Homo sapiens: one gene and its partners. The protein of the gene in region 1 interacts with the protein of each later gene in a pairwise test. Each region holds a gene or a part of one and is shown in the gene's direction. Other genes may lie near its edges.

Region 1 (7,026 bases):
GCTATCATCTATGTATAGTGTGCATAAAATGGACAGATTTTGCTGTTCAAAGGTATTTTTTTTTTCATTTCCTGTTTTTGGACTGTGTTTCAGATAGACAAGGTTGCCAGAGGAGTTTTCTGATTGGGTGAAATATTACAGTATTTCAAAGAAACATAAAAGAAATAATTCATATTTGTCCAGTAAAACAAAATGCAGTGCTATCATCATGTATTTGTTCTCTGTCTTACTAAAAATTTGGGTGGAGATGGGGATGTTTATGTGAACATCTTGAATTTTTTGGAAAACATTTGCTTTATATAAGTACAAAATACTGCAATTGAACAAATGTAACTGGCAAATTGAACAAATACCTCCTGTGCTTTGTTGTGGGAAAATCAGTGAAGGTACTTCACATTGAGAAAATAAGACAGGAAACACTACCAGACAGATAAAGACACAGCAGATACTGAGTAGCCTGGGAGTCTTTCTTGGAGAGATCAGTATAGATCAGAAAGTTGAGGAAAGCTTCATGGGAAGCTTGAGATTTGATGAATGATTTGTAAAAAATAAATAATAATTGGATAAGCAAAGAAGAGTGGGATACCTTTCTAGACTGGTGGAATTAACATAGGTAATAATATACGATTTAGAAGGAGCAGTAAGTGAAAAGTAATAGACTGGTCAACCAAGTCACAGTTCATGCTTTTTCCCATCCCATCTTCCTCATCTGTAACTTAGAATTCATAATATTTACCTTTGGAAGTTTGTGGTAGAGAGCAAAGGAGGTAATAGAACAAGTGTTTGCAAAACCATAAAGTGTACTTCAATTTTGTAAGATGGTACATTGCTTTTATTAGTAGTAGAAAATGGAGTAGATCACGTAAGACTAAGCTTTGGAAAATCAATGGTAAATAGTTGGTACTAGAGACCTATAGTAAGTTTTTTGAGCAGACGAACAGTGGTATTTCATAGTAGTCTGGCTAGACTGGTTTCAAATGGGGAATGGAATCTAGAAAGTCTCATGTATCACCTAATTATTATAGCTATAGTGTTAAGTTTTAAATTATTATAAACATTTCTAATATTTTCTTGATTATCCAACTTTGTGGAATTATGCTTATTAAATGCTTATTAAAAATATTTTTCTTTTTTTCCTAACAGTTTGATAAAGGGAGACCCAGCAGCATCTTTGCCCATCATCAGCTATTCTTTTACCTCATACTCACCTTATGTAACAGAACTTATAATGGAATCCAATGTAGAGCTCATAGCAAAAAATGACTTGCGCTTTATAGATGCTGTCTATAAGGTATTTTGAGTTTATCAAACAATAACTATTAGTTATTGAATGATTTTTAAAAATTAATGATTTAGTCATAACTTCTTAAATATATGCAGCATATACAATTGACAGGATATTTTCATTTGTATTTATCTCATTTAAATGTAGTCTCTATTGAAATCAAGATGCAATTCATGTTTGCTTTTTGAATGTTACCTATTCTAATAAATACAGCAACTGGTAAATATTTGTTGTTGGCTATTGTTTGCCCTTTTTAATCAAATTTTAGTAAAATTTGATATACTGGCAGAAATTAGAGAGTAATGTAATTATATTCAATAAAACTTACAGTTTTTTAGAATTATATGTTAATTTAGTTGTTTGTAAGAAGGAACTATTACTGACATTTTTTTTTTATTAAACTGATATATTCTTTGAGGTCTGAGAGCATGTCTTATATTGTATCTACCCTAGTATTTATACTTGTACTATGTGTATACTGAATTTAATCTCTTATTTGATTTTTTTAAAACCCTGCTTTTATCATTAATTTTTGCTTAAGTACTGTGGTTTGTATTAAAGTTAGTTTTTAATGGTAAAAACCCACTTATCAAATGTAGTCTATTTTTTTTTTTTTTTTGAGACAGAGTCTTGCTCTGTCACCAGGCTGGAGTGCAGTGTCACGATCTAGGCTCACTGCAGTCTCCGCCTCCTGGGTTCAAGCAGTTCCCCTGCCTCAACCTCCTGAGTAGCTGGGACTACAGGCGTGCACCGTGACCACGCCTGGCTAATTTTTTGTATTTTAGTAGAGAGGGTTTCACCATGTTGGCCAGGATGGTCTCGATCTCCTGACCTTGTGCTCTGCCCACCTTGGCCTCCCAAAGTGCTGGCATTACAGGCATGAGCCACCGCACCCAGCCTCAAATAGTCTTTTAAAAAAAGCAGAGTTGCAGTCAATGAAATGGGAGCTTTTATATGTAGTCTCTGTTTAATCTTTCTCTTTCTTGCTTTTGATCCCAGAAGACATCCATGGAAGCCTAAGAGGCACTTTTAAGAAATTCTAGAGCTCCACAGAGTAGATTTAGGAAACTACTGATCTAGTGTGTTTTTTTTCATTTTACAAATGAAAAATTGAGACCAAAAGGCCTACTGACGTATCCAAAAATCACATAGTGGAAGAGTTATAAACAAATAGAACTATAGTTTCTGACTCTGGTATGGTATTCTAGTGAACTAAGAAGTTTTTCTAATATCTCTGAAGATATTTACACTTTTTGATGATTGACTATATTTTTCCATCTCTCTGGACAGACATCTGTTCTCCAGCATATCCTTTGCTACCTGTTTTCCACCTGATACCTGTCTTACTGGATCATGACTTAACACCAGCCCTATGAATTACTTTAGTACTCTTTAGTTAATGGCTTGGTTTTCCTTGTCCTCTCAAAGGTGGCCATTATTCCCCTGACCAGGTGGGCATTATCATTTGGAATTTTAGAAATAAATTGCTCCCAATTATTACAAGAGTCTGTTTCCTCTGCAGCTTCTTCGTGATCAATTTAATTATAAACCAATTTTGACAAAAAAGCAGTTTATCCAATGTGGGTTTGCAGAATGGAAAATCCAAATTGTTTGTGATATTTTGAATTGTGTGATGAAAAAGCACAAGGAATTAAGCAGTCTTCAGAAGGTAATTTTATGAATAGATATTAATGCTGATGTATGCTATTAATAGATGGCTCAGTATTTTAATGTATAAAATCAAAACCCTAGACAGCAAATTATTTCATAGTGTAATTACTGTATTATTCAAAGATTTGAGTAACCTTATAAAGCTTGTTGTTTATTTTAAATACTACTCTCTTGTTTTATACACCTGTGACTGGGAACTCCTAGTGTTAAACTAATAGTTCAAACATAATACATTTTCATTACTTCTTAGTTTTTAAAAGTCATGTAGTCTCATTAGAGTCTCATTATTTGTCAGCTATATTTCATATATGAAAATTTAAATGTTAATGGAATTTTAATATATAATTATGCTTTCACACAAAATTTGTTATTTTGACTAATACCTTTTTTTTTAGATTCCATCACAACAAAGAAAGAAAATCAGTTCTGGTAAGTCAGAACCTCCTTTGGGCAATGAGAAAATATCTGCAGAGGCTGTTGGCGTTGATATCAGTGGCAGGTTTATGACCTCAGGAAAGGTATGCAACCACAAAGAAAATATCATATTGTTTAAGAGTTATCTAATTAATCCAATATACAGTTTTCACTTTTCTGATTGGCACCTGATGAACATTCTAGTTAGATATTGGAGTTCATTGATTTTTAACAGTGCATGCCATATATTTTTGGGCAGTATGCCTGAAGTTATAACAATAGGATAGAAATATAAAATTAAATACGTGTTCTCTTTATATTTCTAATTTCTAATTCTGCCGGATTTCCTAAACAGAAGAGTAGTGATTTAGGAAGATTATCTTATGCAGTTATCTACATTTGCTCTTAATTGTGTTCTGGTCTTCCTAAAACATGGGAACATATGAAGAGCCTACATTAGCAGTAGTGATAGGTTATAATGATTCATTTATGTACATTATATTTCTGTAACCAAGTATGAATTATCCAATAATTGGTAGTCCCTACACGTAGAATCTGGTTTTCAGTTAATATTTTGAATATTTTCTCTTTCTTGAAAGATAATTTTTCTGCCATTATCTGCTTTGAGCAGCTGTGGCAAATTGAATCTAATGCACTTAGAGCTACAGTGTTTCTATCACTAAGGGAGACTTAAGCTAAAATATTATTTATTAATATATTTTCAGCTGTCTTCCAGCTGGAGAAGACTCTGATTGAATGATAGAATATCAGATGAATTATCAATGGTGTAATTAAGTAAAGGATGTGAATACTTTCTGACTGAAGTATAATCTAGAGTATTATTTCTGCCCTAATCCAAAATACATGAGTTATGTAAACAGAATCTATTTTAAAAATTTATTCTTGGGTCTAGCACAGTAGCTCATGCCTGTAATCCCAGCACTTTGGGAGGCCAAGGCAGGTGGATCACCTAAAGTCAGGAGTTTGAGACCAGCCTGACCAGCATGGCGAAACCCCATTTCTACTAAAAATACAAAAATTAGCTAGGCGTGGTAGCTGGTGCCTGTAACCCCAGCTACTTGAGAGACTGAGGCAGGAGAATCGCTTGAACCCTGGAGGCAGAGGTTCCAGTGAGCCGAGATTGTACTACTGCAGTCCAGGCTGGCTGACAGAGCGAGACTCCATCTCAAAAAAATATGTTTATTCCTTTATACCTTAAAAAAGTGAAATTTTATTATAAGAAAATGTTCTTATGCCACTTCTTTTTAATGTACCTGTTTTGCTCTAGGTAATGAAGACAATATAAAGAATGATACAAAGCCGCCATTTTTGAATAAGTGCATGTAGTTTTTGTACACTTGCATCTCTAACTCATCTAACTCTTGTTAGTTTTATTTATGATTTTCTAACTGTTAAATGACTTATATCTTGTATTCTTCCCCAACTAGAAGGAACATATATGAACAGGGATTTTCTTATACTGATTTTTTGTACCTTCATTTTGCTTAGCACAGGATTAGGAACACTGTGAGCACTTATTAATTATTTATTGATATAATGTGCTTTTCAATGTTCTATTTCAGTATGAGAGTTGAGGGGACAGTGTAAATTGTCCTAGCCAAGAAAAATGTAAACTTCAAAACATTAGACTTATTTTTAATTTTCTTAAAGCAAAGTTTTCTTTGTTATCTATTAAAATTTATACCAGATCTTTATCAGAAATTTGAATAAGTATTAAAAGTTCTCAGATTTAGAAAAGAGTCTACAAGTACATTTCTTTGTTTACAAGCAAAAGTTGAGTCAATATTAAAGCAAATTGTCTCCTATCCCAGTGCCTTATATAGTATGCCTATTTGCGCTTCTGAGTCACATATGTTTTTATAGTGTGTATGCAAACTGTAGAATAGGAAGCAGGTAGAGGATTTCTAGGTAAATGCATACCGTGACCTAATGCTTTTTTTGTCAGGACTTCTTCGTTGTCATTATTAGGTTTGAATTGTTAGCTGAAGGTCTAATAAATTGCAGTTTGTTTAACAGAAAAATTGTAATGAGCCCTACTCATAGAGCCAGTTTTTGATTATTTATAAGTGAATTATTTGGCAATCTTTTTTAAAAATAACTTTTTATTATGGAACATTTCAAACATTTACAAACATACCCATCATCCAGTTTCAGCAATTTATCAACTCTTTGCTAATCTTGTTTTGTCTTTATTTTAAATCAAATCTCAGACATAATTTAATAAATATTTCAGCGCTTGTCCTAAAATGTAAGAATTGTTTTAAAAGTCATAACCCCAATTTTATCATCACACATAAATTATTGGTAATGTTAGTAATGGTAATATTTTGATATATATATTATATGTGATAATTTAAACTTTTTTTAATTTTTAAAGATTGGTGTTCCTTTTGCAAAATTGCTGTATGTTTAAAATAATTGTAGGAGGATCTTCTCAGCCCAAAAGCTTCTTAAGCTGATAAGCAACTTCAGCAAAGTCTTGAGATACAAAATCAATGTGCAAAAATTGCTAGCAATCTTATCTACCAACAACAGTCAAGCTGAGAACCAAATCACAAACAAACTCCCATTCAAAATTGCCACAAAAAGAATAAAATACCTAGGAATCTAGCTAACAAGGGAGGCAAAAGATCTCTACAAGCAAAACTATAAACCATTGCTCAAAGAAATCAGAGATGACACAAACAAATGGAAAAACATTCCATGCTCATGGATAGGAAGAATCAATATTGTTAAAATGACTGTACTGCCCAAAGCAATTTATAGATTCAATGCTACTCCCATTAAACTACCATTGACAGTCTTCAGAGAACTAAAGAAAACTACTTTAAAATTTATATGAAACCAAAAAAGACCCAAATAGCCAAGGCAATCCTAAGGAGAAAGAACAAAGCTGGAGGGATCATGCTACCCAACTTCAAACTATACTACAGGGCTACAGTAACCAAAACATCATGGTACTAGTACCAGAACAGACACATAGACCAATGGAAGAGAATAGAGAACCCAGAAATAAGACCACACACCTGCAACTATCAGATCTTCAACAAACCTGATGAAAACAAGCAATGGGGAAAGGATTCCCTAGTCAGTAAATGGTGCTTTGATAACTGGGTAGCCATATGCAGAAGATTGAAACTAGACCCTTTCCTTACACCATACACAAAAATCAACTCAAGATGGATTAGAGACTTAAATGTAAAACCCAAAACTATAAAAACCCTGGAAGACAACCTAGGCAGTACCATTCAGGACATAGGTGTCGGCAATGATTTCATGACGAAGACGCCAAAGGCAATTCCAACAAAAGCAAAAGTTGATAAATGGGATCTAATTGAACTAAAGAGCTTCTACACAGCAAAAGAAACTATCAGCAAAGTAAACAGACACCCTCCGGAGTGGGAGAAAATTTTTGCAAACTTGTATCTGACAAAGGCCTAATATCTAGCATCCATAAAGAACTTAAACAAATTTACAAGAAAAAAACAACCTAATTAAAAAGTGGACAAAGGATATGAACATCTACTTCTGAAGAGAAGGTATACATGCAGCCAATAATCACATGAAAAAAACTCAACATCACTGATCATTAGAAAAATGCAAATCATAACCACAATGAGATACCATGTCACGCT
Region 2 (7,434 bases), on another chromosome or scaffold:
TTTTTCTTTCTGCTAAACTTTGCTTGATTGTTGTTCTAAGTGTTTGCAAAATAAACCTCAGGGATAGAAGCGCTTAGGTGGAGAGCTGACACAATGCCCACATCTCAGGCTTGCCCACGTATTGGTATCACTGCTGTAATAATTACTACAACGTTATTGCCTTAACACATTTCCAGTTCTGTAGGTTAGAAGTTCAACTGAGGTCTTGCTGAGCTAAAGTCAAGGTGCAGGCAGGGCTGTGTCATATCTGGGGGCAACTGTAGGAGAATCTGTTTCCTTGCCTCTTCCAGCTTCCGGAAGCTGCCTGTATGCCTTGTCTTGTGGCCCCTTCCTCCCTCTTCAGTGCCAGCAACATTGCATTTACCTGACCATTCTTGTGTTGTCACATCTCTTTTTGACCACAGCCAGGAAATGTTCCCCGATTTTAAGAATTTATGTGATGAGATTGGGCCCACTTGGATAACCCAGGATAGTCTCCCTATCTCAGTGTCTGTACTCTTAGGCCCCATGTGGCAGCTCATGCCTGTAATCCCGGCACTTTGGGAGCCCGAGGTGGGCAGATCACTTGAGGTCGGGAGTTCGAGACCAGCCTGGCCAACATGGTGAAACCCTGTCTCTACCAAAAAATACAAAAAATAGCCGGGTGTGGTGGCACACACCCTTAGTCCCAGCTACTCAGGAGGTTGAGGTGGGAGGATGGATTGAGCTGGGGAGGTGGAGGTTGCAGTGAGCTAAGATCGTGCCACTGCACTCCAGCCTGGGCAACTGAGTGAGACCCTGTCTCGAAAACAAACAAACAAAAAATCACGTCAGCAAAGTCCATTTTGCCAGGTAAGGCAACATATTCACAGGAATTAGCACAGGAATTAGGGTGTGGGCATTTTGGGGCCATTATTCTGCCTATATACTTTCAATTCTATTTTATATTCTGAATATTTGTATACAGAAAAGTGCATAAATAATTACAAAATGCCAGCTTTATATATATATTACATACATATATTACATATATAACATATATATTATATATATTACATATATATATGTTATATATACATATATATATATTTTTTTTTTGAGACCAGGTCTCACTCTGTTGCCTAGGCTGGAGTGCAGCAGTGTGATCGCGGCTCACTGCAGCCTTGACTTCCCCGCCTCAAGCAATCCTCCCACCTCAGCCTCCTGAGTAGCTGTGACCACAGACGTGTGTCATCACACCTGGCTAATTTTTTTTTTTTTGTAAAGATGAGGTCTTGCTATGTTGGCCAGGCTGGTCTCAAACTCCTGGGCCTAAGCCAGCCTCCTGCCTGCCTTGGCCTCCCAAAGTGCTGTGGTTACAGGTTTGAACCACAGCACACAGCCTTTTGATTTTCTAACTTTTTTTTTTTTTTGAGATGGAGTCTCGCTCTGTTGCCCAGGTTGGAGTGTAGTGGCACAATCTCGGCTCACTGCAACCTCTGCCTCCCAGGTTCGAGCGATTCTCCTGCGTCAGCCTCCAGAATAGCTGGGACTACAGGTGTGTGCCATTACGCCCAGCTAATTTTTGTATTTTTAGTAGAGATGGGGTTTCGCCAGGTTGGCCAGGCTGGTCTCGAACTCCCGACCTCAGGTGATCTGCCCGCCTTGGCCCCCCAAAGTGCTGGGATTACAGGCGTGAGCCACCATGCCCAGCTGTGCAGCCTTTTAATTTTCATAAACTGACCACACCCGTGTAACCAGCCCCCAGATCAAGAAACAGAACATGCTCTGTAGCCCCAGAAGTCCTGCTCCTGCCCTCTTCCCATGCACAGTGTGATTTAGCATTTGTTGACATTAGAAAATTCTGTGTATATGTGAGGTCAGGAGTTCGAGACCAGCCTGACCAACATGGAGAAACCCCATCTCCATGAAATTAGCCGGGCGTGGTGGCACATGCCTGTAATCCCAGCTACTTGGGAGGCTGAGGCAAGAGAATTGCTTGAACCTGGGAGGTGGAGGTTGCGGTGAGGCGAGATCGCGACATTGTACTCCAGCCTGGGCAACAAGAGCAAAACTCCGCCTCAAAAAAAAAAAAAAAAAAAAAGAAAGAAAGAAAATTCTGTGTATAGGTAATACCTGGAGTATTATTGAAATACAAAGGAGAGAGCCCAAGCGATGTTTGTTTACTCATTCATTCAACAGATATTTTTCTGGCACCAGTCCTGGGCTGGGTGCCACGGGAAGTGGGATGAATTGGTTCAATGCTGGTCATATGACACAGAATACACGGAGGCAACTGTGTGCAGGAGGGTGGGGTGGGGAAAGGGGGTTTGTGAAGCAAATAAGAACACAATGCATTGGCCAAGCGTAACCAGGCAATGTGGGTCCCAAAGGCAACTACAGTTGCGGAGCAGAAAGGATTTCAGGCCAAGGGAACACTGTGGGCAAACGCATGGCAGTGGGAACAGGCAGGGGGTGCTGTGGGGTTTGGGGAGGCAAAGAGGGATGTGACTATTGGACTTGACAGCCTTGGAGCACTCGCTCATGCTGTCTGATCCACCATCCCCAGTTCTCACGTCCACCAGCCCAAACCCCAGCTCTCCAGACGCAGAACCAGAGGCCTCAGCCCTCATGCCAGTGTCCTCACTTTACAGACAGGGATGCAGGCCCACTGGAGAAGAGAAATACACGTGAGGCTGGTCGCGCACTTCCTTCATTCCCTCACTGCTCACCTTTCTACAGAGCCCTCCTGGGCCTGGCACTGGGGACACAGAGGGGTCAGATGTGGCTCTGCTCTGAAGAGTTCAGGGGCCAGTGGCACAAAACTGGGGCAGAGGCCTGAAGCAGGATCCAGATCCCATCTCCCTTCTGGGGCTCTGCCCAACCCCACGGCTCCTTCCTGCTGTGCCTCCCAGGAAGACCCCTGCGTCCCCATCAGACCTCTCCATCATTCTTCGTTTATGCAGCCTACATTTTTTTTTCTTTTCTTTTCTTTTTTTTTGGGGGGGGACAGGGTCTTGCTCTGTCTCCCAGCTTGGAGTGCAGTGGCGGGATCTCGGCTCACTGCAGCCTCCGCCTCCCAGGTTCAAGCAATTCTCCTGCCTCAGCCTCCAGAGTAGCTGGGATTACAAATGTGTGCTACCATGCCCGGCTAATTTTTGTATTTTTAGTAGAGATGGGGTTTCACCATTTTAGCCAGGCTGTTCTGGAACTCCTAACCTCAGGCAATCCACCTACCTCGGCCTCCCAAAGTGTTGGGATTACAGGCATGAGCCACTGTGCCCAGCCTGCAGCCCATATCTATTTATTGGGCATCTAATGTGTGCCAGGCAATGTTCTGGGTACTGAGACAACAGCTGTGTAGTAGACAGGCCCCTCCCTCGGTAGAGAAGAGAACAAGTGAACCCATAGGTATCCAATGTGTCGGGAGGAGGTAAGTGTCACCCTGTGAAGGAGAAACAGACTAAGGGAAGAGAGAGGGAGGGAAGGCGGTCAGGGGAGTTTCTTTGAGGATGTGACACTCGGGACACAAAGGAAGCAAGTTACACAGGAATGGGGAGAAGAGGACTCCAGACAGGGGAAAGGGGGACCTTGATGGGTCTGGGGTCCACACACAGGCTGTGAATGCAGGGAGTGATGTAGATTTAGCTTTGGAGAGACCTGGAAATCAATGCTGGTCTCTCCATCTCCCCCTGTTCTTGGAAATGGACCACCAGGCGTGAGGTTTGGGGAGGCCACTGGCTGCTTCTCCGGTGTCTTCCTGTATCAGCCACAACTAGCACACGGAGGGATGCTGGCCAGACCTGGCTTCATCAGGATGACACGCCCAGCTAACCTCATACCTCCCCCTTCATCAACACTCCCCCATGTTGGGGAGGCAAGGCAGGGAAAGGTCCCCCATGGTGCAGCTGAGGAAATGGAGGCGCAACACTCTGCACTGTGCCAGGTGCAGAGGAGGGGGGCCGGAAGGGCTTTGCCACGGTGTCCCCCAGGAGACCACCTTCTGGGAGCAGGTGACCTCTTGAGGGGTTCTGCGGAGGAAGTTCCCAGAAGTCAGCCGAGGGGACTTGGTGGAGGTGGCAACGCACAGGGCGGGTGACAAAGTACACATCCCGTGGGGTAGCAGCGGGGGAGGGGAGAGGTGCCCTGAAGGGGCGGCGGGAGGGGCTCAGAGGCGTGATCCCGTTGGTGGGGCGTTTAGGACCTTGGGTGGAGGCGGGACCCCGCGAGCGGTTTGAGGGAGGCTGTCCTGGGCATCCGAAGATTGGCGGAGACTGGCCGTTTGGAAGTGGGCGGGGCAAGGGAGGTCAGGGGGCGGGGCCAGGGAGCCGGGGTGGGTCCGGGCCGTTCAGAGGCGGGGCGGGAGGGGACAGGGGCGGGGCCGGGGCGGGGAAGGGGCGGGGCCGGACCGGGGCCGGGCCGGGCCGGGGCGGGGCGAGCGGAGCCGGGGGCGCGCGGGCGGCGGCGGCGCGGAGGTGCGCTCGCCGGTGCTGTGTTTGGCGGGTGGTGGCGGCGGCGGCGGCGACGGCGACGCGCACAGAGGCGGACTGTGGCTTCCTTGGTGCTCGCGGCGGGCTGCGGGCCGGGCCGCCCGCCCTCCCCGCCGCCGCCGCCCCCGAGCCTGCGGGCGGCGCCGAGGCCGAGGAGCGCTCGCTGCAGCACATGCTGCGTGCCATAGCGGAGGAGCGCGGCCGTCTTAGCCTGCGCCGCGAGGTCTGCGGCCTCGGTGAGTGGGACCCGGGGGCGAGGCCGGGCCGGGAGAGGTGAGCGTCTCCGGGGCCGCCTCTGCGCGTCCGTGTTTCTGTGCGCCCCGCGCATCTCTGTCTCTGCGCGGGTGTCGTGGTCTCTGGGTCTGCCTGGGTACCCTGTCTTCCTCCATGGCCCCCCCCCCACCGTCCCTGCATCTGGGTCTGTCTCTGCTTTCCGTCCGACGAGCGCCCCGCACCCCTGTGCCCGGGTCTCATTCGGCGTCTCCCCCTGTCAGTCCGTCCGGGTGTCTGTCTCATCTTCCTCCTTCTTCTTCGTGTCTCTGCGGGTCTTCTTCCTTCTCCAGGAAGCCCGCCCCGGGCCCTCAGCACCGCGGTAGGGAGTGTGGGCGTGGGATCTGGGTACACCCTTAGCCCAGCGCGGCAGGGTCGGGCCCTCGTTGGGCTCTGGGTGGACCTCGCTGCGAGCGTGCCCTGGCCACTGTCTCCTGCTACCCGAAGCCTTTGTCTTTCCGCACCCACCGGCCCCTCTCATCCCTTAGCTGTATCCAGGGACCTGTTGGGCAATGGCCCCCCGAACCCGCCCGCTTGGCTGAGGGGCAGGGCCTGCTGCCTCTCGGTGTGATTCTGGGCTTTAAGTCATGGATCTGCTGGGGGGCGTGGGATGGGGGTGCCTCGTATTGTTTGGAAGGGCCTGGGACTGCAGGTGTGGGTGGGGTCTCCCAGCCAGTGAGGTAATCCATTACTGATGGATCATGCCCAGACTGAAGCCCAGGAGAAGCCCCCTCTTTTGTCGTCTCAGGTTCGTCATTTTCTCCATGGAAAAGACCCCTCCCTCCTCCGTGCAGGGAATGACTTCATACCACATTGTCAGCCACCCCCCACCCCACCCCCAGGCTAGGCTGGGGATTTCTGAGGGGGTGACAGCATTGCTGAGTACGGAATGTCAGCCTTCCAGATTCACCCCTTCATTCACCGTTGGGGAAACTGAGTCCCAGAGAACAAGTGCATCCCCCTAAGGTCACACAGCTGCAGGGACATGGCAGTCCCAGGCATTCAGGGCCCCTCAGCAGGCCACACCCTGGAGGCTGGAGTGGAGAGAGGAAGTAAATTTGAATCCCTTTTGTAGGAGGCAGGCTTAGCATGGGAGGCTTCCCAGTGAGCAGGCCCCAGCCTAGCCTGCCCAGGCGAGCCTTTCCTCATGCAGGGGTGGGGTGGGGGGTGCTTATGAAGTGAAATGGACAAGAACTTCAATGGTTGACAAGGTTTCAATGGTTTCTTTCTGAAAAGGTGTCAAGATTTACTTTTGAGCAGAAGTTGGAGCGTGCTTATTCATTCATTCTGCAAACATTCATTGAGCACCTACTGTGTGCCACCGTGGCAGGCCCACCTGTCAGCTGGCACCGAATATCTGAGCTGGGATGCATCTGAAGGACCATCTGCTGCAGGTCACTTGGCCCTGTTTGCTCAGCAGCTTCAAGCAGTCCCTCCCCACTCCCCTGTCCACACACACCTATTGTCCTCTGACCACCTTTACCTGTGAGCACCTTCTCTCCTCTTCTAGGCAGCCCCTCCCGCAAGGAGGCTGCAGGGCCATTCCCAGAAGAACAGTGAACAGTGAAAATGGCACCTAGCATTTACTGAGCACTTACTATGTGCCGGGTGCTTTACTCATGCTGCAAATTTAATCCTGACACAATGCTGACTTTGCCAGGGAGCAGTATTATCTCCATATCAGCGATGAAGAGCCTGAGGGTGAGAGAGAGAGAGAGAGAGAGAGAGAGCCTGCCCAGGGACAACCAATGAGGAAGCAGCATAGCAGCATAGCCGGGACTGACCCTCTGCCAGCCTGACCTCAGAGCCTGCCCTCCACTCCCTGAATATCCCCAGCCAGGTCTTTATGTGCCTACGATACTCACGCTGTTTCCTTGTCTCTTCTCCAGGCCTCCCGCACGTGCCAGGTCTCCCCTCTTCCCCTGCTGCTGAACTCAGTCCCTGCAGGGCTCTGAAGCAGAGAAAACCTGCTGTTTTCTCTGCCCGGAAAGCCGCCCCTACTCATGTGCCCCACAAGCATCTCTAAGTTTTCCTTTAAGTCTCAGCTCCAGTGTTGCCTCTCCGGGAACTCTTTCCAGCTCCCAGGCACACAGTCCTGTTCTGCCTGTGTTCTCTTTGTGCCAGGCACATGTTTGTTGGGACAATCAGGATGATTGTGGCCTTGTCATGGTCTGTGTGCTGTCTCCCCAGTTAGCAGGTGAGGCCTTCAAAGGCATTACCCAGTCTGATTCATCTTGGTGCCCAGCATGGGGCACATACGGAGCAGGTGCCCAGTAAACATTTAGTGAACAAGTGAGAAAATTATTATCTGGACTGGCAGATGAAGGGCGTGGAGGGCCACGGAGATGGGAATCTTAGCTTCTTAGAAGGCCTCATTTTTGGCCGGGCGTGGTGGCTCATGCCTGTAATCCCAACCCTTTGGGAGGCTGAGGCGGGCGGATCATGAGGTCAGGAGTTTGAGACCAGCCTGGCTAACATGAGGAAACCCCCGTCTCTACTAAAAATACAAAAAAAAAAATTAGCCAGGCGTGGTGGCGGGCGCCTATAGTCGCAGCTACTCAGGAGGCTGAGACAAGAGAATGGTGTGAACCCGGGAGGCGGAGGTTGCAGTGAGCCGAGATCACGCCACTGCACTCCAGCCTGGGCTACAGAGTGAGACTCTGTCTCAAAAAAAAAAAAAAGGGCTCATTTTTCAGATGAGAGATTTGATGTTCAG
Region 3 (6,936 bases), on another chromosome or scaffold:
GGAGACTCCATCTCAAAACAAAACAAAACAAAACAAAAAAATGTTCCAAGGCTAGGGGCAGTAACTCACACCTGTAATCTCAGCACTTTGGGAGGTCAAAGCAGATGGCTTACTTGAGCCCAGGAGTTCAAGACCAGCCTGGGCCAAGCCAGGCATGGTGGCTCACACCTGTAAGCCCAGCACTTTGGGAGGCCGAGGTGGGTGGATCACCTGAGGTCAGGAGTTCGAGACCAGCCTGGCCAACATGGTGAAACCCCATCTCTACTAAAAATACAAAAAATTAGCCGGGCGTGGTGGCAGAAGACTGTAACCCCACCTACTTGGGAGCCTGAGGCAGGAAAATAGCTTGAACCCGGGAGGCAGAGGTTGCAGTGAGCCAAGATCATGCCATTGCACTCCAGCCTGGGAGTCTCAAACGAACAAACAAACAAACAAAAGACCAACCTGGGCAACATGGTGACAGCCTGTCTCTATAAAAAATACAGAAATTAGGCTAGGTGCAGTGACTCATCCCTGTAATCCCAGCACTTTGGGACGCCAAGGCGGGCAGATCACCGGGTCAGGAGTTTGAGACCAGCCTAGCCAACATGGCGAAACCCTGTCTCTACTAAAAATACAAAAATTAGCCAGTGTGGTGGCGGGCACCTGTAATCCCAGCTACTCGGGAGGCTGAGCCAGGAGAATCACTTGAACCAGGGAGGTGGAGGTTGCAGTGAGCTGAGATCGCACCACTGCACTCCAGCCTGGGCAATGAGAAAGACTCCATCTCAAAAAAAAAAAAAAAACCAAAAACAGAAATTAGCTGGGCGTGGTCAGGCACATCTGTAGTCCCAGCTACCTGGGAGGCTAAAATGGGGGAATCACCTGAGCCCAGGAGGTGGAGGTTGCAGTGCGCCAAAATTAAACCACTACACTCCAGCTCAGACAACAGAGTGAGACTGTGGCTCAAAAAAATTTTTTTTTAATTAAAAAAAGCAACGTGGCCTGGCGCGGTGGCTCACGCCTGCAATCCTAGCACTTTGGGAGGCCAAGGCGGGTGGATCACGAGGTCAGGAGATCGAGACCATCCAGGCTAACACAGTAAAACACCGTCTCTACTAAAAATACAAAAAATTAGCCGGGCATGGTGGTGGGCGCCTGCAGTCTCAGCTACTCGGGAGGCTGAGGCAGGAGAATGGCCTGAACCCGGGAGGCAGAGCCAAGATCGTGCCACTGCACTCCAGCCTGGGCGACAGAGCGAGACTCTGTCTCCAAAAAAAAATGTTCAGGCCAGGTACAGTGACTCACGCCTGTTATCTCAGCACTTTGGGAGATGGAGTAGGCAGAGTTCAAGACCAACCTGGAATACATGGTGAAACCCCATCTGTACAAAAAAATTACCAAAAAATTAGCCGGATGTGGTGGCCCGCATCTGTAGTCCCAGCTACTTGGGAGGCTGAAGAGGGAGGATTGCTTGGGTCTGGGAGGTGGAGGTTGCAGTGAGATTCAACCATTGCACTCCAGCCTAGGGGAGCCAGACTCCATCTCAGTAAGAATAAAATTTTCCTCTTAAAAAAGAAAAGAAAATCCTCTGTTAACCCCACAGCCCTCTCCTGCTCAATACTGGTCCTCAATATCCAAGGGTTCAGCATCCAGGAATTCAACCAACTGAAGAAAAAAATATCTGGGGAAAGGCCAAGCATGGTGTCTCATGCCTGTAAACTCGCACTTGGGGAGGCCAAGGCAGAGGATCACTTGAGGCAAGGAGTTCGTAACCAGCCTGGGCAACATAGTGAGACTCTGTCTCTGCAAAAGATTTAAAAATTAGCACTGGGCGAGGTGGCTGACGCCTGTAATCCCAGCGCATTGGGAGGTTGAGGTGGGCGGATCACCTGAGGTCGGGAGTTCAAGACCAGCCTGACCAACATGGAGAAACCCCGTCTCTACTGAAAATACAAAATTAGCCGGGCATGGTGGTGTATGCCTGTGATCCCAGCTACTCGGGAGGCTGAGGCAGGAAAATCACTTCAACCCGGGAAGTAGAGGTTGCAGTGAGCCAAGATTGCACCATTGCACTGAAGCCTGGGCAACAAGAGTGAAACTCTGTCTCAAAAAAAAAAAAAAAAAAGAATTACTAGGCATGGCAGCGGCAGGTCTGTAGTCACAGCTACTAGCAGGGCTGAGGTGGGAGGAACGCTTGAGACTGGGAGGTCGAGGCTGTAGTGAGCCATGATTGCACCACTGCACTCCAGTCTGGGTGAGAGAGCAAGACCCTGTCTCAAAAAAATAAAAATAAAAGAAAGAATGGGAGAAGAGAAATTGAGGATAGCCAGAATATACAGTGGTGTCTTCCCAGGGAATTTAGATACCATAATTTCCACCCTCCCATCCTATGGATACCAAAATCTGCTGATTCTCTTGTAGTAAGAGATGACTTTAAGTCATCTTAAAGTCTCTAGATTACTTATAATATCTAATACAATGTAAGTGCTATATAAATAGTTGTTATACTGTATTGTGTTGTATTTTTGTTGCTATTGTTATTTTAGAGATGGGGTCCCTGAAATCCCGTGATAGAGATTTCTGTCTGTTTTGTTCACTGATGTATTCCCAGCACAGGACAGAGCTTGCTAGTGGATGCTTTATACATCTTCCTCCATAGTCAGGCATGTTAGCATGTGCCTGTAGTCCTAGCTACTCAAGAGGGCTGAAACTGGAAGATCGCTTGAACCCAAGAGTTTCAGGCTCCAGTGAGCTATGATCATGCCACTGCACTCCAGCCTGGGTGACAGAATGAGCACTGACTCTAAGAACCTTCCTTCCTCAACACCCCCTCTACCAAAGTTTATCTCTGTTTCTTTTTTTTTTTTTTTTTTTTGAGATGGAGTCTCGCTCTATCGCCCAGGCTGGAGTGCAGTGGTGCAATCTCAGCTCACTGCAAGCTCCGCCTCCCAGGTTCACGCCATTCTCCTGCCTCAGCCTCCTGAGTAGCTGGGACTACAGGCGCCCGCCACCACGCCCGGCTAATTTTTTGTATTTTTAGTAGAGACCGGGTTTCACCGTATTAGCCAGGATGGTCTCGATCTCCTGACCTCGTGATCCGCCCGCCTCGGCCTCCCAAAGTGCTGGGATTACAGGCGTGAGCCACCGCGCCCAGCTCTCTGTTTCAAGTGTTTGATTTAGAGGCTACAAAGGATGAAGAGGGCTCAAGGCCTCAAACAGAGCAAGGTAAATGAGTTTCTCCGGCTGCTAGAGCGGTCTAGGAGACCTTAGGTGGCTAAGCCACTTCTTCCTCCTTTGCAAACCCTCTGGTTGTTCTCCATAAAGGAATGACCTCAGATAGTAGACAGTAGCCAAGGCTTACAGGAGGGAAATCCAGACCTGCTCTTCATCCCAAACACCGACCCAAGGACCACTCCTTCCAGGAACCTAGCCTAAAGCAAAGGTGCAGACAGCCCGGGGCCACCGCTGACCTCTAGGGCAAGCCAAATTAAGGCTGGGAGAGGATCCTGCAGGCCAAAGGATGGAAAGGACTAGGAACAAACAACAACAAAACCCTTACGGGGACAGGCGGAACAGTGCCCCCTCCCACTCCCACAACCATTCCTCCCTCGATGGGAGGACGATTTCTGCTATTTGGCCTCATGGGAAATGTAGTCTTTTAGGAGACATGGCCAGAAGGGCCGTTTACAAAACTTTGGCAGAAGAAAAAAATACGTTGTGTATGGGAGTCCAAAACTACCGTCATGCTTGCACAGACTCTAAATACACATTTTCCCCTTTCCTTAGCCTCCACCAGTCTCCAGAGCAATTCCTCCTCCCGCCCACATCCCATGTGTCTCGGCTTTCAATTTGGGCAGACCTACCTCTCTCCTACTCGCTGGTTCGTCAGCCGCTCTGTTCAATCGTAGGAGCGCTCCTGGTCGGTTCCCGCAGTGCCTTGCGGCTGTAATGGCTGCCCCCAGCTGGCGCGGGGCTAGGCTTGTTCAATCGGTGTTAAGAGTCTGGCAGGTGGGCCCTCATGTCGCGAGGGAGCGGGTGATCCCTTTTTCCTCACTCTTAGGCTTCCAACGGAGGTGCGTGTCCTGCGTCGCGGGGTCCGCTTTCTCTGGTCCCCGCTTGGCCTCGGCTTCTCGCAGTAATGGCCAGGGCTCTGCCCTGGACCACTTCCTCGGATTCTCTCAGCCCGACAGTTCGGTGACTCCTTGCGTCCCCGCGGTGTCCATGAACAGAGGTAAAGCGCCCTGATAGGTTTGCTCGGAACTGTCATGTTTTTAGTATTGAAAGGTTTCTGGGGATACTGTCTTTGATTCTATTTTATAGAAAACAATTTTGAGGCCCTGACAGGGAGGAGCAGTGAAAAATCTCTCAGGAGAGAAATAACAGTTTGAGTGGGAGAAGGAAACGATCTGGTCACAACCAGAGACGCTCACTAAAGAGCATGAGATTGAAGGGCCACAAAGTGGAACTATGGCTCTGCACCCCGACATGGGAAGCAAATTTGATCCAGTAAATGCATGTTGGGCCTCATCTTCTTGTTAAGACACAGTTACACCTGGAAAACAGCACACTTTATTCTTCAAACAGTGTCCGGTATTGGAGACTGGACACAAACTGGTCATTGCAAAATGGTGTCATAAGAAGATAATATAAAAAGACTGGGCCCTCTCCCTTCTTGACCCTTAGCCCTTCCTCCCGTCCCTCCTTCAGGAAAAAAAAAAAAAAAGACTGGGAAAGCTTGCAGGGCCTTCATAGCACCCTTAGTAGGGTGAGAGAATGAGAGCTGAGGAAATATCTGGCTTTGTGTAATCCAGCTTGCTTTCATGTACATTCACTTCTCAGGCACAGCTATACATTATAATTACATGCAGTAATTATTAAGTGCCAGGTATTGTGCTGAGTTGTTTTACACAATTGCTAGTCATCAAAAAAATTATAAGCTGGTAAGTAGGTACTGTTAATATCAACTCACTTTTACATATGAGAAAACTAAAGGGCTCAGGGAGTTACTTTATAAATTAATGTAAATTAAGGGCCAAAGTCTCAAAGTCAGCTCTAGGTGACTTCAACCTGGTGCACTAATTTTGTACCCCTGCTCCCTTTGTGGGTGGGCAGGAACAAGCACTTGACAGGAAATCCAGATTCCACTGTGTCTCATGCTTCTTCCCACTTGCACATAGATGAGCAGGATGTCCTCTTGGTCCATCACCCTGATATGCCTGAGAATTCCCGGGTCCTACGAGTGGTCCTCCTGGGAGCCCCGAATGCAGGGAAGTCAACACTCTCCAACCAGCTACTGGGCCGAAAGGTATGCTACACCCTTGACCATCCTACCCTTTACATCTTTTACTTCTTGCCATGCCTTCAAGGATGGTCTTGGAGGGATCTGGGACCTCACTGAGACTCCTTTGTTCCTGGCAGGTGTTCCCTGTTTCCAGGAAGGTGCATACTACTCGCTGCCAAGCTCTGGGGGTCATCACAGAGAAGGAGACCCAGGTGGTGGGTACCTACAAAGGGAGTCCTTGAAACAGGACAGAGGGTGAAGCTAAGAGGGTCTCCCTTACCATCAGCCTTGAAGAAAATGATGGTCACATTCATTTATGTGAGGAAAGGGGGTTTCTTTTCTTTTTCTTTTTTTTTTTTTTTGAGATGGAGTCTCACTCTGTCTCCCAGGCTGGAGTGCAGTGACGCGATCTTGGCTCACTGCAAGCTCCACCTCCCAGGTTGACGCCATTCTCCTGCCTCAGCCTCCTGAGTAGCTGGGACTACAGGCGCCTGCCACCACACCCAGCTAATTTTTTGTATTTTTAGTAGAGATGGGGTCTCACTGTGTTAGCCAGGATGGTCTCGATCTCCTGACCGCGTGATCCGCCTGCCTCAGCATCCCAAAGTGCTGGGATTACAGGTGTGAGCCACTGCGCCTGGCCAGGAAAGGGGGTTTCCTCTTCCTTTAGGCATGGTACAGTTCTGTCTCTACCTTGCCCTCCCCTGACATCTAGTCAGAAAGATTTCATTCTCTCGCTCTCTTTTTTTTTTTTTTTGAGATGGAGTTTCACTCTTGTTGCCCAGGCTGGAGTTCAATGGCATGATCTCAGCTCACTACAACCTCTGCCTCCCGGGTTTAAGCAGTTCTCCTGCCTCAGCCTCCCGAGTAGCTGGGACTACAGGCATGCGCCACCACGCCCGGCTACTTTTGTATTTTTAGTAGAGATGGGGTTTCACCATGTTGGCCAGGCTAGTCTCAAACTCCTGACCTCAGGTGATCCGCCTGCCTTGGCCTCCCAAAGTGCTGGGATTACAGGCATGAGCCACCACGCCCAGCCGATTTCATTCTCTGTTTACTGCTTCCTAATCTTCCTTATATTCACAGTCATCATCTTTCTCCCAGATCCCATCAAAGCAGAATGGTAGAAACCTAAGGTCAGCCTGGGCGCAGTGGCTCACGTCTGTAATCCCAGCACTTTGGGAGGCCAAAGCAGGCGGATCACTTGAGATCAGGAGTTCAAGACCAGCCTGGCCAACATGGTGAAACCCTGTCTCTACTAAAAAAATACAAAAATTAGCCGGGTGTGGTGGTGCACGCCTGTAATCCCAGCTACTCAGGAGGTTGAGGCAGGAGAATTGCTTGAACCCGGGAGGCAGAGGTTGCAGTGAGCTGAGATTGTGCCACTGCACTCCAGCCTGGATGACAGAGTGAGACTCCGTCTCAGAAAAAAACAAAAAACAAACCTAAAGTCAATAATAGTTTGACTGAGAAGGGAGGGCAGGCTCCTGACATCACAGGTAGCCTCTCTCTGACTTCCCAGTCATAATCTTTTCTCCTGGGGTCTGGGTATCTCACTTTCCTGATTTTAGATTCTACTTGACACACCTGGCATTATCAGTCCTGGTAAACAGAAGAGGTAATGGTGGTGGAATTGGGGTGGATTGGCGGGGAGGTACTGAAAGAGGGTGGGG
Region 4 (7,026 bases), on another chromosome or scaffold:
CAGAAGTGGCTTCCTGGAGGAAGTGGCATTTTGAGTTCTTGAAGGCTGTATGTACCAGTCAAGATGCTTTGGCTGCTGGGACAGAAACCCTGACTGGACTGACATTGACAAGGGGAAGTATATTGGCTGGAGCACAGCAAGCCCGGAGGCAGGGCAGGATTCCCCGCCAGCCTCACCAGTGGCTCCGGCCTCTTTTTCCCACAGCACCTGCGCAGCTGGTTGGGCTGGGCCATCCTCTGTGGGTGGCCTCATCCTCAGGCTGACTTGCTTCATGGAGGCCAGCTGGCCTTGGCTTTCCCGGGCTGCCACTGTGGAGCCCACACACCGTCTCTTCTGGTGGCTCTCTCCAGAGAGCTAGCAGTATCTCCCTGGTAAACTTTCATGAGTCTGTCTGGCCACTCCTGCACCAAGCTCTTTGACAAGGACCATGGACTTAGGGGCTCAGTGCCTGTGGCAAAGGGGGGTGGGTCTACCCTGTGACCTGTCAGACTCATCCTGGGACTGGGGAGAGCCGGCCTCCCTGAAACACTTGGGAAGGTGGGGGCCTGAATGGAAACTGGGGAGGCTTCAAGGAAGTGGGAGGGAGTGGGCTGCCACTTGGGCCTGGCACCCAAGAACATGCCTTCTGGAGAGTAAGTGGAAAATTCTGGGCTGAGGTCATTGGGAAGCCTGAGTCACCTGGCAGGGACGTGGGTTCCAGTTCGCTGGAGCGAGGGGAAGAGCTAGGCTGCCCTGTGCAGGCAGGGCTTTGCACTCTTCTGGGTAGAAGCAGGACTCGTGGTGGGGGCAGCCTTTGGAGGGTGCATTTCTGCTTCTGCAGCCGGTGTCCTGCTTCCATGTGATGGTTTAAACTCTAGGCAAGCGTGTATAGTAAAGGGAGTTATTTGCAAATGCTGTATTATCGCAAGTCAATTATTTCTCACTCTCTTGTTGCAGTGGAATTCAGGCGGGATGTTATCAGGAGAAAGGTTTAGTACGCACTTGCAGAAGCTCATTAGCACCAAAGGCATGAGCTGCGCCTCCCACTTCTGGGGAGGGGTGTTTCCAACGCAGATAGATTTTCCTCTCCTACCGCATTTCACATTCTACTGGTGCATTTTGGTAGCATCCCAAACTTCTCATTCAGCACTCTGCAGCTGAGTAAAGCGATACTGGTCTCACCATGCAATTCAAAGTATTGCTCTCAAATGAAGAATGTTTTTCCCAACAGGAACAGTCATTTGCGCAGGCTGCATTAGGAACTCACCGTGGGGCCTTGAGACAGTGCGGTGAGCTTATTATCCCCTGGTGGTGCCATAGGTACCCCTTCCTCACCCAGCAGGACGGAGGCCCTCCCCCCATAACTGTTTCTGCAGCCTCCTCTCCAAGCTGGCCCCTCTGTGGCCTGCGGCCTCGGGCCCTGATCCATGGCAGGGGCACTGCTGCCCCACCCGGCTGCTTCACCGGCCCCAAGTTGACTCGTGGGCCTGCGGGTGCTGTTGGTTCAGGCCTCACAGCCACCGCCTTTCACTTGAGCCACGGCCACACAGGAGTCCAGTTGCGGAGAAGGGGTCGCACTGCCCCCAAGGAGTCCAGTTGTGGAGAAGGGGTCACACTGCCCCCAAGGAGTCCAGTTGTGGAGAAGGGGTCACACAGCCCCCAAGGACTCCAGTTGTGGAGAAGGGGTTGCATTGCCCCCAAGGCAGCCTGCAGCCATCAAGTAACCATTTTGTGAGGTCACAAAATGTCCCCCAGGCTTGTTTCAAGATGCAACCAATTCTGTGGTACGTTTCCTGCTCCGGAGCTCTCTGCGGGCCAGGCTGAGGCCAACTCCTGCCGAGACCACCTCCCTCCCCAGCCCTTCCCTGACTGGCCTGCCCCCCTCATGCCCCTGCTGGGACAGGGCTCACATCCAGTCCTGCCATGGGCTCTGCTTCTGGAACCCAACATAAAGCCATGCCCCTTGTTTCAGGTAGTTCGTAAATATCGGGTCTTTTCATCCTAAGTCCCCCTTTCATTCATCTTTTCTCCCTGTCCTTCCCAAATAGCCCTCCTATATCAACCTGTGCGGAGGGAGCCTGTCTCTCTTCTCCTCAAGGCTGTTGGAGAACCAAGCTGGGGATGGGGTGCACGTGTTCTTTTCCAGAACAGCCCAGAAGTGGGGTTCAGTGTGGAAACTTCGCTCTACCTCTCTCCAGCACTAACCTGACCTGGCTCCTCTGGGGTGGAGAGTCCAGGACTGAGCCCAGCTGCAAAGATGCAAATCTGGGTCCCCAATGCAGTCCCTTGCCCTCTGGTGAGGTGACCCTGGGGCCAGAATTCACCTGCACGCAACCAAGATGTCAGACTTGTCCCTAGGCCTATTTCACTTGATTTGAAAGTGAATTTCATGACTTTTTTCTCTATGAATTTGCTTTTCTGAGGCTGGCCAGCAGATTGCACACCAACTGAGTGCTGCTGGACACTGGTTTGCCATTGGGGCTGGGCCCTGCCCCTTTGTTCCACAGGAGTTGGGAGAGGTGAGGGGCGTTCAGTGCCCGGCAGGACACAGGACTGTCCAGCCTGAACAACATCCTGCCTCCAGTTGGAACCCAGCCGCAGTGGAGTCACTGAGGGCTGTTCTGCAGCTGATTCTCCTAAGCCAAACACCCATCTTGGCAGATCGTCTACAAGGTTTTAGGAATGTGACAAGACTGGTGTTCCAGACGGATTTTTACCAACAGTCTGAGCTGTTGGAGGGCGTGAACAATGTGCCTGTGACCTTGGGCTGTTTGTGCGATTCCCAAAAGATGCTTCTGGGTTTCTGAGTCCACAGAAAACTCAGCTGTGGACAGGCCTGCTGGTCCCCAACGGCCCTGGGCCCCACCCCACAGCTATTTCTGTCAGAGGGCCAGCTGTCTCCCTTCTTCCTTTTCTGGGTGACTCTTGAGCCACTCGTTGGCCTGGTACTCAGGGTTGGGATGTGTGTGTGGAGAACATGACCTGGCTTCTAGCCCTGCCTGTCCCCCGTGAGCCCTGCCCGTCCCCAGTGAGTGTGAGACGGGAAAGGAGAGAGGGGCGAATGGAGGTTGCTTCTAAGACCCAAGGTGTGCCAGGTACTCTGGAAGCTTTACTCCCATAGTTTGTTTAAATCCTGTGAAAAGAGTTCCGAGTCTCTCTGTTTGACAGAGAGAAAACAGACTCAGAGACACCATGGGACATGGCTGAGGCCACCTATTAATTAGGGGCTGCCAGTTCATGGCCCAGGCTGCTTCCTGGATCAGCCCCTCAGCTCCCTCCAAGACCCCATTCAGGCTATGTCCTGCAGGCAAGCCACCTTCTTCCTATCCCTGGCACATGTCGTCCCCCACTGACCTGTGAACCACCAGGGGTGACATTTCAGGAGAGAGAGTCCCATATCTGTCTCTGCCTTACTGTATCTCTCATCTTCTTTTTCCATCCTTTCATCTTTAAAAAATTGATTTTTATTTCATCAGAGTAATATATGTTTTTACCCATATTCTCAGGCCGTTCCCCACACAGTAGGCTGGGCAGTCCTTTTAAAATATGTCAGATCATGCCACTTCTCTGATAAAAACTTTCCAAGGGTGTCTTGTATCACTCCGTAAAACCCAAGTCCTTAAACAAGCTACAAGACCCTCAATGATCTGGTAATGATCTCCTTGTTTATAAATAACATACATATGTATTACACATTAGTTTATCAATTGCAGATGCTGTCAGCTGGCTCCTGCATTGAAGGACGGGACTTGGTGTGCATGGGCCCAGTTCAGGCCAGCTCCCTACTTTCCTTCTCTGCATCACACTATAGTTCATTGTAGTGTGGGGCTAAATGAATATTCACTGGCAGGACAGACTGCTTAAGAATATGGGTGCTAGAATCAGATTTCCTGGGTTCAAATCCTGATTCTGTCCCTTATACCATGACTTAGGGCAAGTTACTTATCAACTTTGTGCCTCAGTTCCCCCATAGGTAAGATGGGAAAGTTTTAGGAGTATACTTCACCCAGGGCAGTTATGAGGGTAAATGAGATCTTTCACAAAAAGACCTCTGAACAATGACTGTCACATAGTAAATGCTCAGTAAATGCTGGTGATGATGATGATCTTGCCAGCTGTGTAAATAATGTCAATTGCAGAGCCAAGCAGTGTACTATAATCTTTCTTTCCTTATACAACTTTCTGCTTCTTCTAGAGTTAATGATTTATTTTCTTTTTCATTGCTCATCTGCCTACATATCTAGCTTATCTATCTATATATCTACATATCTCCATAAAGTTTTCAATAGAACCCATCAAAATGCTATGTTCTATATGATTAAACAAAGCAGATAATCTATCAATTCCATTTTATTCTCCCATGGAAATCTACCCACTAGAGACCTCTGTCCTCTAGATCCAGTCTGGTCTGGATGTTCTCCTCAGGGTTTCCTGCACCTGCCATTCCCTCTGCCACCATTCTGAGAATTTCTTTTACCCCCTTTTTATTGTTGTTGTTAGGTCCCTATTTTCTGGATTCCATATTATCTGCCTTCTTGGATTGCTGTCTTATTTTGCTGGAACACATCCTTCAGTAGCTTTCGGAGCAAGAATGCCTTTTCTAAGTATTCACATGTCTGAAAATGTCTTTATTCTACATTCATACTTGATTGATACTTTGGTTGTGTATAGAGTTCTAGGTTAAAAATAATTTTCCAAAAAATGATGAACTCTGTGTCTTCTTTGACATAATTTCCAGTAAGTATTGTTAATTGGAAAAAGTAATATACAGAAAATAAAGATAGCATGCTGTTCCTTGTGTGAGAAAGGCTGCAATTTTCCTGCATTTGAATAAAAATCACTGGCAGAACACAATGAAAGGAGTGTGGGGATGGAGGTGGAAGCAGGTTGTCAAGTGCCACTCTTCATGCTCTTGATATTTGAACCATGTGACTGTATTAACTAGTCAATAAAATAAACTAATAAATATCAAAAAAGTAAAATTAGGAGCCAGGCATTATGGCTCACACCTGTAATTCCAGCAACTCAGGAGGCTAAGGTGAAAGAATAGCTTAGGACCAAGAGTTCAAGTCCAGCTTGGGCAACAAAGTAGGACCCTTCCTTTAAAAATATATTTTTTTTATTTAGCTGGGCATGGTGATGCATGCCTGTAGTCCTAGCTATTTGGGAATCTGAGGCAGGAGCATCGCTTAAGCCCAGGAGTTCAAGACCAGCCTGGGCAACATAGTGAGACCCCCATCTCCACAAAAAAGAAAAGAAAAAGTGAGTGGGTGTGGTGGCTCATACCTGTAATTCCAACAATTTGGGAGGGCAGTGAGTGGATCACTTGAGCTCAGGAGTTTGAGACCAGTCTGGGCAACATGGTGAAATCCCTTCTGTACTAAAAATACAAAAATTAGCCAAGCATGATGGCTTGTGCCTATGGTCCCAGCTAGTTGGGAGGCTGAGGTGGGAGGATCACTTGAGCCCAGGGGACAGAGGTTGCAGTGAGCTGAGATCACACCCCTGCACTCCAGCCTGGGTTGACAGAGCAAAACTCTGTCTCAAAAAAAAAAAAAAAAAATTTAAAAGAAAAAGTTTGGAAACTTTTAGGATCTTCTCTTTATTCTCAGAATTCTGGATTTTTCCCCCACTTATTGAGCATTCATTGGGTTCATTCAATCTGGAAACTTGTATCCTAAAATTCTGGGAAATTTTCTTGAATTTTTTCCTAGCCCCATCATTTTTTCTGTTCTGTCTTACAGTAATTTCTGTAAGACAGAACAGAAAAAGAAGTAATTTTTCATTTTCCTTTCTTTTCTTTTTTTTTTTTTTTTGTCTTTTGGTAATACTTCAAGGAAGATTCTTCAACTTTACCATCCACTCCCTCTACTAAGTTTACCTGTTTTATATTGAATTGCTAAGTTTTTTTATTGTTCTTTATCTCTATAGCATCCTTTCTTGACTCACTAATGCAGTACCTTTTCTTACTACTCTAAGGATATTAAGCAAATTCACTTAATTTGGGGGTTTTCCTGAAAATTTTTTTGTTCCCTGCATCCTGGTCTGTTTCTTTTCCTCCTTTGTGTGTTTTGGCCTCTGTCATCTTGGAGCCTTTCTCAGATGTGTGGTGATCCTCAGCTACCCTTTCATATTTTAGAGGGAGGCACTAAACATGGTGACTACAATTTGAGCAAAGGCCAGGAAGAGAGATGTCACAAAGTGTGAACAGGAAGCCACACAGGGCGGCTGAAGTGTTGGTACCAGACAGTGGTTCCTCAGGCAGGGGCAAGCAGCTCTGATTTGAACCCAGTCTCTTGCCTTTGAGGCCAGTGCCCTTGACCACCATGTCAGTGTTAGGAGGAAACATTGCTTAATGTTAACCAGTCAGACTTCTCTAATTTGGTGCCTGCAGGTGGAGTTTTGTTTTTGATTAAGGGACTAGTAAGGCTGGAAAAGAAAGTTGAAAATTAATCTGAGACATACACCAGGGAAGAACGGCTAACCTCTAGTGTCTACACAGCTCAAACAAAGGAACCCATCATTATGGTATTCTTTTACTGAGAGCGAAATAAAATGTCAAATTAGCTGAGCAAATAAAGATAGTAAAACAAAAAAATATGAGATTTTCATAGCTTCAGGCATCAAGAATTGGGCTGGGCATGGTGTCTTGTGCCTGTAATCCCAGCACTTTGGGAGACCAAGGCGGGTGGATCACCTGAGGTCAGATGTTTGAGACCAGCCTAACCAATATGGTGAAACCCCATCTCTACTAAAAATACAGAAATTAGCCAGATGTGGTGGCTTGCACCTGTAGTCTCAGCTACTCGGGGGGCTGAGGCAGGAGAATTGCTTGAACCCAGGAGGCAGAGGTTGCAGTGAGCCAAGATCACACCACTGCACGCCATCCTGGGCAGCAGAGCGAGACTCCATCTCAAAAAGAGAAAAAGAAGAAGACAAAAAGCAAAGGAATAATTCATTTATTTGCTTGGAAAGTTCTCTAAGATCTGAGATATACTTTCCATAAAACAAATAAAATACCTGGAGAGTTTAGGTAGGCAGAATGTG

What was found.
Region 2: the proteins of CEP44 (region 1) and KIAA0930 interact in binary tests that used the Homo sapiens proteins (3 or more experiments, as listed by UniProt).
Region 3: the proteins of CEP44 (region 1) and ERAL1 interact in binary tests that used the Homo sapiens proteins (3 or more experiments, as listed by UniProt).
Region 4: the proteins of CEP44 (region 1) and LRRFIP1 interact in binary tests that used the Homo sapiens proteins (3 or more experiments, as listed by UniProt).

The regions. Positions count from the first base shown.
Region 1 is NC_000004.12:174,300,896-174,307,921, forward strand, and holds part of CEP44 (centrosomal protein of 44 kDa), read left to right. Parts: intron 1-1,143; coding exon 1,144-1,291; intron 1,292-2,807; coding exon 2,808-2,954; intron 2,955-3,351; coding exon 3,352-3,474; intron 3,475-7,026. UniProt on the Homo sapiens protein: Centriole-enriched microtubule-binding protein involved in centriole biogenesis. In collaboration with CEP295 and POC1B, is required for the centriole-to-centrosome conversion by ensuring the formation of bona fide centriole wall.
Region 2 is NC_000022.11:45,237,890-45,245,323, reverse strand, and holds the start of KIAA0930 (uncharacterized protein KIAA0930), read left to right. Parts: upstream 1-4,429; 5' UTR 4,430-4,620; coding exon 4,621-4,684; intron 4,685-7,434.
Region 3 is NC_000017.11:28,851,105-28,858,040, forward strand, and holds the start of ERAL1 (GTPase Era, mitochondrial), read left to right. Parts: upstream 1-3,911; 5' UTR 3,912-3,930; coding exon 3,931-4,213; intron 4,214-5,159; coding exon 5,160-5,287; intron 5,288-5,400; coding exon 5,401-5,478; intron 5,479-6,834; coding exon 6,835-6,881; intron 6,882-6,936. UniProt on the Homo sapiens protein: Probable GTPase that plays a role in the mitochondrial ribosomal small subunit assembly. Specifically binds the 12S mitochondrial rRNA (12S mt-rRNA) to a 33 nucleotide section delineating the 3' terminal stem-loop region.
Region 4 is NC_000002.12:237,630,574-237,637,599, forward strand, and holds part of LRRFIP1 (leucine-rich repeat flightless-interacting protein 1), read left to right. Parts: intron 1-7,026.